Regions from separate parts of the Homo sapiens genome. Here region 1 is linked to region 2. The links come from fine-mapping of genetic effects on gene expression. A gene starts in region 2. The other region holds a variant in brackets. All regions are shown on one strand. Distances are between the middles of the regions.

Region 1 (5,232 bases), 32 kb before region 2:
ATCTTGAATTAATTTTTGTATAAGGTATAAGGAAGGGATCCAGTTTCAGCTTTCTACATATGGCTAGCCAGTTTTCCCGGCACCATTTATTAAATAGGGAATCCTTTCCCCATTGCTTGTTTTTCTCAGGTTTGTCAAAGATCAGATAGTTGTAGATATGCGACATTATTTCTGGGGGCTCTGTTCTGTTCCATTGATCTGTATCTCTGTTTTGGTACCAGTACCATGCTGCTTTGGTTACTGTAGCCTTGTAGTATAGTTTGAAGTCAGGTAGCGTGATGCCTCCAGCTTTGTTCTTTTGGCTTAGTATTGACTTGGCGATGCGGGCTCTTTTTTGGTTCCATATAAACTTTAAAGTAGTTTTTTCCAATTCTGTGAAGAAAGTCATTGGTAGCTTGATGGGGATGGCATTGAATCTATAAATTACCTTGGGCAGTATGGCCATTTTCACGATATTGATTCTTCCTACCCATGAGCTTGGAATGTTCTTCCATTTCTTTGTATCCTCTTTTATTTCCTTGAGCAGTGGTTTGTAGTTCTCCTTGAAGAGGTCCTTCACATCCCTTGTAAGTTGGATTCCTAGGTATTTTATTCTCTTTGAAGCAATTGTGAATGGGAGTTCACTCATGATTTGGCTCTCCGTTTGTCTGTTATTGGTGTATAAGAATGCTTGTAATTTTTGTACACTGATTTTGTATCCTGAGACTTTGCTGAAGTTGCTTATCAGCTTAAGGAGATTTTGGGCTGAGACAATGGGGTTTTCTAGATATACAATCATGCCATCTGCAAACAGGGACAATTTGACTTCTTCTTTTCCTAATTGAATACCCTTTATTTCCTTCTCCTGCCTAATTGCTCTGGCCAGAACTTCCAACACTATGTTGAATAGGAGTGATGAGAGAGGGCATCCCTGTCTTGTGCCTGTTTTCAAAGGGAATGCTTCCAGTTTTTGCCCATTCAGTATGATATTAGCTGTGGGTTTGTCATAGATAGCTCTTATTATTTTGAGATACTTCCCATCGATACCTAATTTATTGAGAGTTTTTAGCATGAAGGGTTGTTGAATTTTGTCAAAGGCCTTTTCTGCATCTATTGAGATAATCATGTGGTTTTTGTCTTTGGTTCTGTTTATATGCTGGATTACATTTATTGATTTGCATATATTGAACCAGCCTTGCATCCCAGGGATGAAGCCCACTTGATCATGGTGGATAAGCTTTTTGATGTGCTGCCGGATTCGGTTTGCCAGTATTTTATTGAGGATTTTTGCATTAATGTTCATCAAGGATATTGGTCTAAAATTCTCTTTTTTTGGTTGTGTCTCTGCCAGTCTTTGGTATCAGGATGATGCTGGCCTCATAAAATGAGTTAGGGAGGATTTCCTCTTTTTCTATTGATTGGAGTAGTTTCAGAAGGAATGGTACCAGTTTCTCCTTGTACCTCGGGTAGAATTCGGCTGTGAATCCATCTGGTCCTGGACTCTTTTTGGTTGGTAAGCTATTGATTATTGCCAGAATTTCAGAGCCTGTTACTGGTTTATTCAGAGATTCAACTTCTTCCTGGTTTAGTCTTGGGAGGGTGTATGTGTTGAGGAATTTATCCATTTCTTCTAGATTTTCTAGTTTATTTGCGTAGAGGTGTTTGTAGTATTCTCTGATGGTAGTTTGTATTTCTGTGGGATTGGTGGTGATATCCCCTTTATCATTTTTTATTGCATCTATTTGATTCTTCTCTCTTTCCTTCTTTATTAGTCTTGCTAGTGGTCTATCAATTTGGTTGATCCATTCAAAAAACCAGCTCCTAGATTCATTAATTTTTTGAAGGGTTTTTTGTGTCTCTATTTCCTTGAGTTCTCCTCTGATTTTAGTTATTTCTTGCCTTCTGCTAGCTTTTGAATGTGTTTGCTCTTGCTTTTCTAGTTCTTTTAATTGTGATGTTAGGGTGTCAATTTTGGATCTTTCCTGCTTTCTCTTGTGGGCTTTTAGTGCTATCAATTTCCCTCTACACACTGGTTTGAATGTGTCCCAGAGATTCTGGTACGTTGTGTCTTTGTTCTCGTTGGTTCCAAAGAACATCTTTATTTCTGCCTTCATTTCGTTATGTACCCAGTAGTCATTCAGGAGCAGGTTGTTCAGTTTCTATGTAGTTGAGCGGTTTTGAGTGAGTTTCTTAATCCTGAGTTCTAGTTTGATTGCACCGTGGTCTGAGAGACAGTTTGTTATAATTTCTGTTCTTTTACATTTGGCGAGGAGAGCTTTACTTCCAAGTATGTGGTCAATTTTGGAATAGGTTTGGTGTGGTGCTGAAAAAAATGTATATTCTGTTGATTTGGGGTGGAGGGTTCTGTAGATGTCTATTAGGTCCGCTTGGTGCAGAGCTGAGTTCAATTCCTGGTTATCCTTGTTAACTTTCTGTCTCGTTGATCTGTCTAATGTTGACAGTGGGGTGTTAAAGTCTCCCATTATTAATGTGTGGGAGTC[T/G]AAGTCTCTTTGTAGGTCACTCAGGACTTGCTTTATGAATCTGGGTGCTCCTGTATTGGGTGCATATATATTTAGGATAGTTAGCTCTTCTTGTTGAATTGATCCCTTTACCATTATGTAATGGCCTTCTTTGTCTCTTTTGATCTTTGTTGGTTGAAAGTCTGTTTTATCAGAGACTAGGATTGCAACCCCTGCCTTTTTTTGTTTTCCATTTGCTTGGTAGATCTTCCTCCATCCTTTTATTTTGAGCCTATGTGTGTCTCTGCACGTGAGATGGGTTTCCTGAATACAGCACACTGATGGGTCTTGACTCTTTATCCAATTTGCCAGTCTGTGTCTTTTAATTGGAGCATTTAGTCCATGTACATTTAAAGTTAATATTGTTATGTGTGAATTTGATCATGTCATTATGATGTTAGCTGGTTATTTTGCTCGTTAGTTGATGCAGTTTCTTCCTAGCCTCGATGGTCTTTACATTTTGGCATGATTTTGCAGCGGCTGGTACCGGTTTTTCCTTTCCATGTTTAGCGCTTCCTTCAGGAGCTCTTTTAGGGCAGGCCTGGTGGTGACAAAATCTCCCAGCATTTGCTTGTCTGTACAGTATTTTATTTCTCCTTCACTTATGAAGCTTAGTTTGGCTGGATATGAAATTCTGGGTTGAAAATTCTTTTCTTTAAGAATGTTGAATATTGGCCCCCACTCTCTTCTGGCTTGTAGAGTTTCTGCTGAGAGAGCTGCTGTTAGTCTGATGGGCTTCCCCTTTGTGGGTAACCCGACCTTTGTCTCTGGCTGCCCTTAACGTTTTTTCCTTCATTTCAACTCTGGTGAATCTGACAATTATGTGTCTTGGAGTTGCTCTTCTCGAGGAGTATCTTTGTGGCATTCTCTGTATTTCCTGAATCTGAATGTTGGCCTGCCTTGCTAGATTGGGGAAGTTCTCCTGGATAATATCCTGCAGAGTGTTTTCCAACTTGGTTCCATTCTCCCCGTCACTTTCAGGTACACCAATCAGACGTAGATTTGGTCTTTTCACATAGTCCCATATTTCTTGGAGGCTTTGTTCATTTCTTTTTATTCTTTTTTCTCTAAACTTCCCTTCTCGCTTCATTTCATTCATTTCATCTTCCATCACTGATACCCTTTCTTCCAGTTGATCGCATCGGCTCCTGAGGCTTCTGCATTCTTCACGTAGTTCTCGAGCCTTGGCTTTCAGCTCCATCAGCTCCTTTAAGCACTCCTCTGTATTGGTTATTCTAGTTATACATTCATCTGAATTTTTTTCATAGTTTTTAACTTCTTTGCCTTTGGTTTGAATTTCCTCCTGTAGCTCGGAGTAGTTTGATCGTCTGAAGCCTTCTTCTCTCACCTCGTCAAAGTCATTCTCTATCCAGCTTTGTTCCGTTGCTGGTGAGGAACTGCGTTCCTTTGGAGGAGGAGAGGTGCTCTGCTTTTTAGAGTTTCCAGTTTTTCTGCTCTGTTTTTTCGCCATCTTTGTGGTTTTATCTACTTTTGGTCTTTGATGATGGTGATGTACAGATGGGTTTTTGGTGTGGATGTCCTTTCTGTTTGTTAGTTTTCCTTCTAACAGAGAGGACCCTCAGCGCAGGTCTGTTGGAGTTTGCTAGAGGTCCACTCCAGACCCTGTTTCCCTGTGTATCAGCAGCGGTGGCTGCAGAAGAGCAGATTTTCATGAACCGCGAATGCTGCTGTCTGATCGTTCCTCTGGAAGTTTTGTCTCAGAGGAGTACCCGGCCGTGTGAGTTGTCAGTCTGCCCCTACTGGGGGGGTGCCTCCCAGTTAGGCTGCTCGGGGGTCAGGGGTCAGGGGTCAGGGACCCACTTGAGGAGGCAGTCTGCCTGTTCTCAGATCTCCAGCTGCGTGCTGGGAGAACCACTGCTCTCTTCAAAGCTGTCAGACAGGGACATTTAAGTCTGCAGAGGTTACTGCTGTCTTTTTGTTTGTCTGTGCCCTGCCCCCAGAGGTGGAGCCTACGGAGGCAGGCAGGCCTCTTTGAGCTGTGGTGGTCTCCACCCGGTTCGAGTTTCCCGCCTGCTTTGTTTACCTAAGCAAGCCCGGGCAATGGCAGGCGCCCCTCCCCCAGCCTTGCTGCTGCCTTGCAGTTTGATCTCAGACTGCTGTGCTAGCAGTCAACGAGACTCTGTGGGTGTTGGACCCTCTGAGCCACGTGCGGGATATAATCTCCTGGTGTGCCGTTTTTTAAGCCCGTCAGGAAAGCGCAGTATTAGGGTGGGAGTGACCCGATTTTCCAGGTGCCGTCTGTCACCCCTTTCTTTGACTAGGAAAGGGAACTCCCTGACCCCTTGCACTTCCTGAGTGAGGCAATGCCTCGCCCTGCTTCAGCTCGCGCTCGGTGCGCTGCACCCACTGTCCTGCGCCCACTGTCTGGCACTCCCTAGTGAGATGAACCCAGTACCTCAGATGGAAATGCAGAAATCACCCATCTTCTGCGTCGCTCACGCTGGGAGCTGTAGACCAGAGCTGTTCGTATTTGGCCATCTTGGCTGCCTCTCCAGCCAAAAGCAATGGCAACAAAAGCCAAAATTGACAAATGGGATCTAATTCAACTAAAGAGCTTCTGCACAGCAAAAGAAACTACCATCAGAGTGACCAGGCAACCTACAAAATGGGAGAAAATTTTCACAACCTACACATCTGACAAAGGGCAAATATCCAGAATCTACAATGAACTCAAACAAATTTATGAGAAAAAAACAAAGAACCCCATCAAAAA
Region 2 (5,232 bases):
ACAGGGAAAGCCACAGAAGGGACGGGGCTCAATGTCTGCTGCTGCGTCGCCTCCCTCATCACTCCCGCTCCATTTGTGTTGGCCAGGGGGCTCTTACCTCTAGCCCAGGCTCCTCTCTGGTTCCCAGCTGTACTCCTGCCTCCAGGGTAACACTGCTCTGTCCTTCCTCCACATCAGCATTGAACCTCCTTTCCAGATGACCAAAGGACTGCTGTGTTCAGAAAACCTTGCTTTTTCACTGCCGGCTACACACCCCCACCAAATCCTTAATGGGACACGCCATTCTTACCTCAACCTATTTTGTTGTTGTTGTTTTGAGATAGGGTCTCGCTCTGTTGCTCAGGCTGGAGTGCTGTGGCACGATCACAGATCACTGCAGCCTCAACCTCCCAGGCTCAAGCAATCCTCCCACCTCAGCCTCTGGAGTAACTGAGACCACAGGCAAGCGACACCGTGCCTGGCTAATTTTTGTATTTTTTGTAAAGAAGAGGTTTCACCATGTTGCCCAGGCTGGTCTCAAACTCCTGGCCTCCTCAAGCTATCAACCCACCTTGACCTCCTAAAGTGCTGGGGTTACAGGTATGAGCCACCCCACCTGGCCCCCAAACTATTTTTCTAACATTGCCTCCTCCTGTTTCCTGCTGTGCCACACCAGATTTTCACTAACCCCTGCAGCCTCCTTGGCTGTGTCTGAAATGTCACCGACACCACAGTGCCCCCGTCCATCCTGACCGTGCTTATGTGCCCATCCTCTTCCCACAACCCCAAGGTGAAGCAAGGTGAAGTTCACCTGTGTCCCTGTAGCACTTCATTTACACTCTTCTGGCCTTGGTTTTTTGTTGTGGTTCCTCATTTTATCTCCTCCATTGGACCTCAAGCACTTTCAGAACAGGAACTGCTGTCATTCATTCATCTTCACACCCTAACACATACTAAAATGCTCATTGTAAGTGCTCTAGTATGTTTTTCTTTTCTTTTTTTTTTTTTTTTTTTTGAGAAGGTGTCTTGCTCTGTTGCCTAGGCTGGAGTGCAGTGGCATGATCTCAGCTCACTGCAACCTCAGCCTCCTTGGTTGAAGTGATTCTTCTGCCTTAGCCTCCCAAGTAGCTGGATTACAGGCATGTGCCACCACGCCCCTCTAATTTTTGCTTTTTTTTTTTTTTTTTGAGACGGAGTTTCGCTCTTGTTGCCCAGGCTAGATTGTAATGGTGCAATCTCGGTTCACTGCAACCTCCGCACCTCCCAGATTCAAGCGATTCTCGTGCCTCAGCCTCCCAAGTAGCTGGGATTACAGGCATGCACCACCACACCCGTCTAATTTTGTATTTTTTTCGTTTTTTGTGCAGATGGGGTTTCACCATGTTGGTCAGGCTGATCTTGAACTCCTGACCTCAGGTGATCTGCCTGCTTCAGCCTCCCAAAGTGCTGGGATTACGGGTGTGGGCCACCGTGCCTGGCCTTAATTTTTGTATTTTTTAGTAGAGACGAGGTTTCACCATGTTGGCCAGGCTGGTCTCGAACTCCTGACCTCAGGTGATCTGCCCGCTTCAGCCTCCCAAAGTGCTGGGATTACAGGTGTGAGCCACCATGCCCGGTCTCAAGTATGTTTTTCAAAGGAAGGATATTCATGGAGACAATTGTCATTCTTTAAACATTTGATATGCATTTGAGCTAGTCACAGATAGCTGTTAATGTGTAAATCTTGATAACAGGCTTCTAATGTCACCATTTCAGTTTCCTGTGCAGCAAAACAAAAATAACATTAATTTGTGTTATATGGCAACTAATGCACAATAATGAATAAATATCTTAAGTATTAGGGAGAATCCTGGTTAGAGAGTTGATAAAGTGAATACAAACTCCCTTTTCAAGCACTTGAAAGGGAGGGATGGTTTTCCAAGATGAAGACTTAGGTTTGAGTATCTCCCTTTGCCTGAATTTGCTTTTATGTAAAAATAGAGGGTTGGATTCTATCTATTCCCCTTTAACTCTAAAATTATATTATTCCAGCAGTTTTACTTAACAAGAATTGACTATCACACAAATGGTTTTGTGCTAACGTTAGCAATAAACACCTTTTTAAAACCCTGCTTTTACCCATGCTCCCGGGCATGCTCTAAAGTTCATTTGACTTCTAATAATGGATGTGCAAATATGTTGAGTGATCACTTCCACAATGGTCCTGTTCCTTTAAGAGACCACGGTTGTTAAGTTAGGAGATCATTGAACCATATGAGGGTCAATAAAAGAATAAAAAGTCACTGGTTAGCGATTCGAGGACAAGGAACTTGATCCCAGTTCAGTGTCTGTGGGTCCATATGCTGCCCACAGTCAAAGAGGGAGTCCCAGGTTCTTGGCAGCTTGCTTTTCCTCAGGATGGCTTCTGGAAGGCTCATTAAGTTCGTGGTTTTTGAGCTCCTAGAGTTTGCCGCTTTCTCCATCCCCACACTCGTGATCACAGAACAGTTTGCCACCGCCTACCAAGGAACAAGGGCTAGATCTGACAACACACACTACTGGCTGATCATCTCCTGTTCTATTGCCTATGTTGCGTTAGTGACTCTACTGATCTGGGTTCCTGTAAAAGTTATCCTGCACAAGAAACGTTATATTTACAGAAAAATTAAAGGATGGTAAGTAAAAGAATTTTCTTTTTTTTCTTTTTGATTTGGAGTCTCGCTCTGTCACCCAGGCTGGAGTGCAGTAGGGCAGTCTTGGCTCACTGCAACGTCCGCCTCCTGGGTTCAAGTGATTCTCCTGCCTCAGCCTCCTGAGTAGCTGGGATTACAGTCGCACACCACCACACCTGGCTTATTTTTGCATTTTTAGTAGAGACGGGTTTTTGCCATGTTGGCCAGGCTAGTCTTGAACTCCTGACCTCAAGTGATCTGCCTGCCTCAGCCTCCCAAAGTACTAGGATTACAGGCAGAAGCCACAATGCCCGGCCTGTAGAAGAATTCTTTAGTAGGGAATCCCCATGATGCTGTCAAAGATACGTTTGTTTGTTTGTTTTTTTGTTTGTTGTTTGTTTTAACTTTAAAGTTCAGGGGTAAAAGCGCAGGTTTGTTACATAAGTTAACTTGTGTCATTAGGGGTTTGTTGTACAGATTATTTCACCGGCATGCACCACCATGCCCAGCTAAGTTTTGTACTTTTAGTAGAGACGGGGTTTTCATGTTAGCCAGGCTGGTCCCGAGCTCCTGACCTCAAATGATCCACCCATCTTGGCCTCCCAAAGTGCTAGGATTACAGGAGTGAGCCAACACGCCCAGCCTGTAAAAGAATTCCTTAGCAGGGAATCCCCGTGATGCTTTCAAAGATATATTTGTTTGTTTGTCTGTTGTTTGACTTTTAACTTTTAAGTGCAGGTTTGTTACATAGGTTAACTTGTGTCATGGGGATTTGTCGTACAGATTATTTCATCACCCAGGTATTAAGCCTAGTACCTATTAGTTGTTTTTCCTGATCCTCTCCCTCCCACCGTTCACCCTCTGGAAGGCCCCGGTGTGTGTTGTTCCCCTCTGTGTGTGCATGTGTTCTCATCATTTAGCTCCCACTTATAAATGAGAACATGTGGGATTTGGTTTTCTGTTCCTGCGTTAGTTTGCTAAAAGTAATGGCCTCCAGCTCCATCCATGTCCCTGCAAAGGACATGATCTTGTTCTTTTTCATGATTGCATAGCATTCGATAAAGTATATATGCCACATTTTCTTTATCCATTCTATCACTGATGGGCATTTAGGTTGGTTTCCTGTCTTTGCCATTGTGAATAGTACTGCAACGAACATACGGGTGCATGTGTCTGTATAATAGAATGATTTATATTCCTTTGGGTATATACCCAGTATTGAAATTGCTGAGTCGAATGGTATTTCTGTCTTTAGGTCTTTGAGGAATCACCACACTGTCTTCCACAATGGTTAAACTAATTTAGACTCCCACTAACAGTGTATAAGTATTCCTGAAAGATATGTTCTAACATACTGTGGGTAAGGATGTGAGCAGAGCGTAAGGATAGAATGTGACATTAATGGGAGGCTACAATTACTGCTTCTGTGAATGTATGGATATTATGGTATCTTCCTTAATTTTTCTACAGTCATTTATACTGAGTGATAATAACACATGAGATGGGTTAGTAAGACTGGAGTTTGTGCCAGTTCATGCTATTCTAAGTAGTAAATGTTGGACTTAATTCTCCTGGACACTAAATTACATAAACTTATCGGAGTGAGCTTACACAACTCATAATCAGAAGATGGTAATGTAGAATTTTAATTTTGCGTAAAACTGAAAGTAATGTCTATTTTTAATTATTTACATTGCATTTTGCAGGCTTACGTCATACTTTGACCATTAACTACGACTTTTAAAACAACTGGTTCCTTTAGACTTTTTATTTACTTATTTTTTATTTTGAGACTGGGTGTGGCTCTGTTGCCCAGGTTGGAGTGCAGTGGCGTGATCATTGCTCACAGCAGCCTCAACCTCCCCAGGGGGCTCAGGTGATCCTCCTACCTCGACCTCCTGAGTAGCTGGGACTACAGGTGCACACCACCACACCCGGCTACTTTTTTTGTGTTTTTTATAAAGATGAGGTTTTGCCACATTGCTCAGGCTGGTTCCAAACTCCTGGGCTCAAACAATCCACCCGTCTTGGCCTCCCAAAGTGCTGAGATTACAGGCGTGAGCTGCCAAAGCTGGCCTACTTAGACTTTAAAAATAAATAATTTACTGTGTTGGTAAATTCTGTTACCCTTGTAGGGGAGGAAAGTACTTCAATAACAATACAGAGATATTTTAAATAAATCAGGATTTAATGTTAATTTAACTAGCAGTTTAGCTAATGGGTATACTGATCCACATAAGGGTATTGAGAACAAATAGTCTCTGATATTAATGTATTTTTCCTTTTAGATCTTCAGATCTGATTCTTACTCATCTTGGACTTCTCTCTTTTCTTTAATAAGTTAATATAAGCTAATTTTTCTTTCATACTGATGTTTTATTTATTTATTTATTTATTTATTTATTTGAGACAGAGTTTCACTCTTATTGTCCAGGCTGGAGTGCAGTGGCACGATCTCAGCTCACTGCAACTTCCGCCTCCTGGGTTCAAGCAATTATCCTGCCTCAGCCTCCTGAGTTGCTGGGATTACAGGGTCCTGCCACCACTCCCGGCTAATGTTTTTTTTTTTTTTTGTATTTTTAATAGAGACAGGGTTTCTTCA

Alleles and levels. Positions count from the first base shown, and alleles are read on the strand shown. Sizes are in standard deviations (SD) of each study's normalised expression.
For the expression in regulatory T cells of the gene that starts at base 2,282 in region 2, T is the high allele of the variant in region 1 and G is the other (large effect, 1.0 SD a copy in Schmiedel 2018).

The links.
Region 1: its variant is fine-mapped to the expression of TMEM236 in regulatory T cells (Schmiedel 2018, PIP 0.91).

The regions. Positions count from the first base shown.
Region 1 is chr10:17,717,966-17,723,197 of GRCh38, forward strand. No RefSeq gene overlaps it. Among named protein-coding and RNA genes, the nearest start is that of TMEM236, 32 kb to the right of the region's middle. The variant T/G (reference allele first, on the strand shown) is at 2,481.
Region 2 is chr10:17,749,920-17,755,151 of GRCh38, forward strand. TMEM236 (transmembrane protein 236) reads left to right here and starts at 2,282. Exons shown (of 4, transcript NM_001098844.3): 1 at 2,282-2,633. The coding sequence starts at 2,377.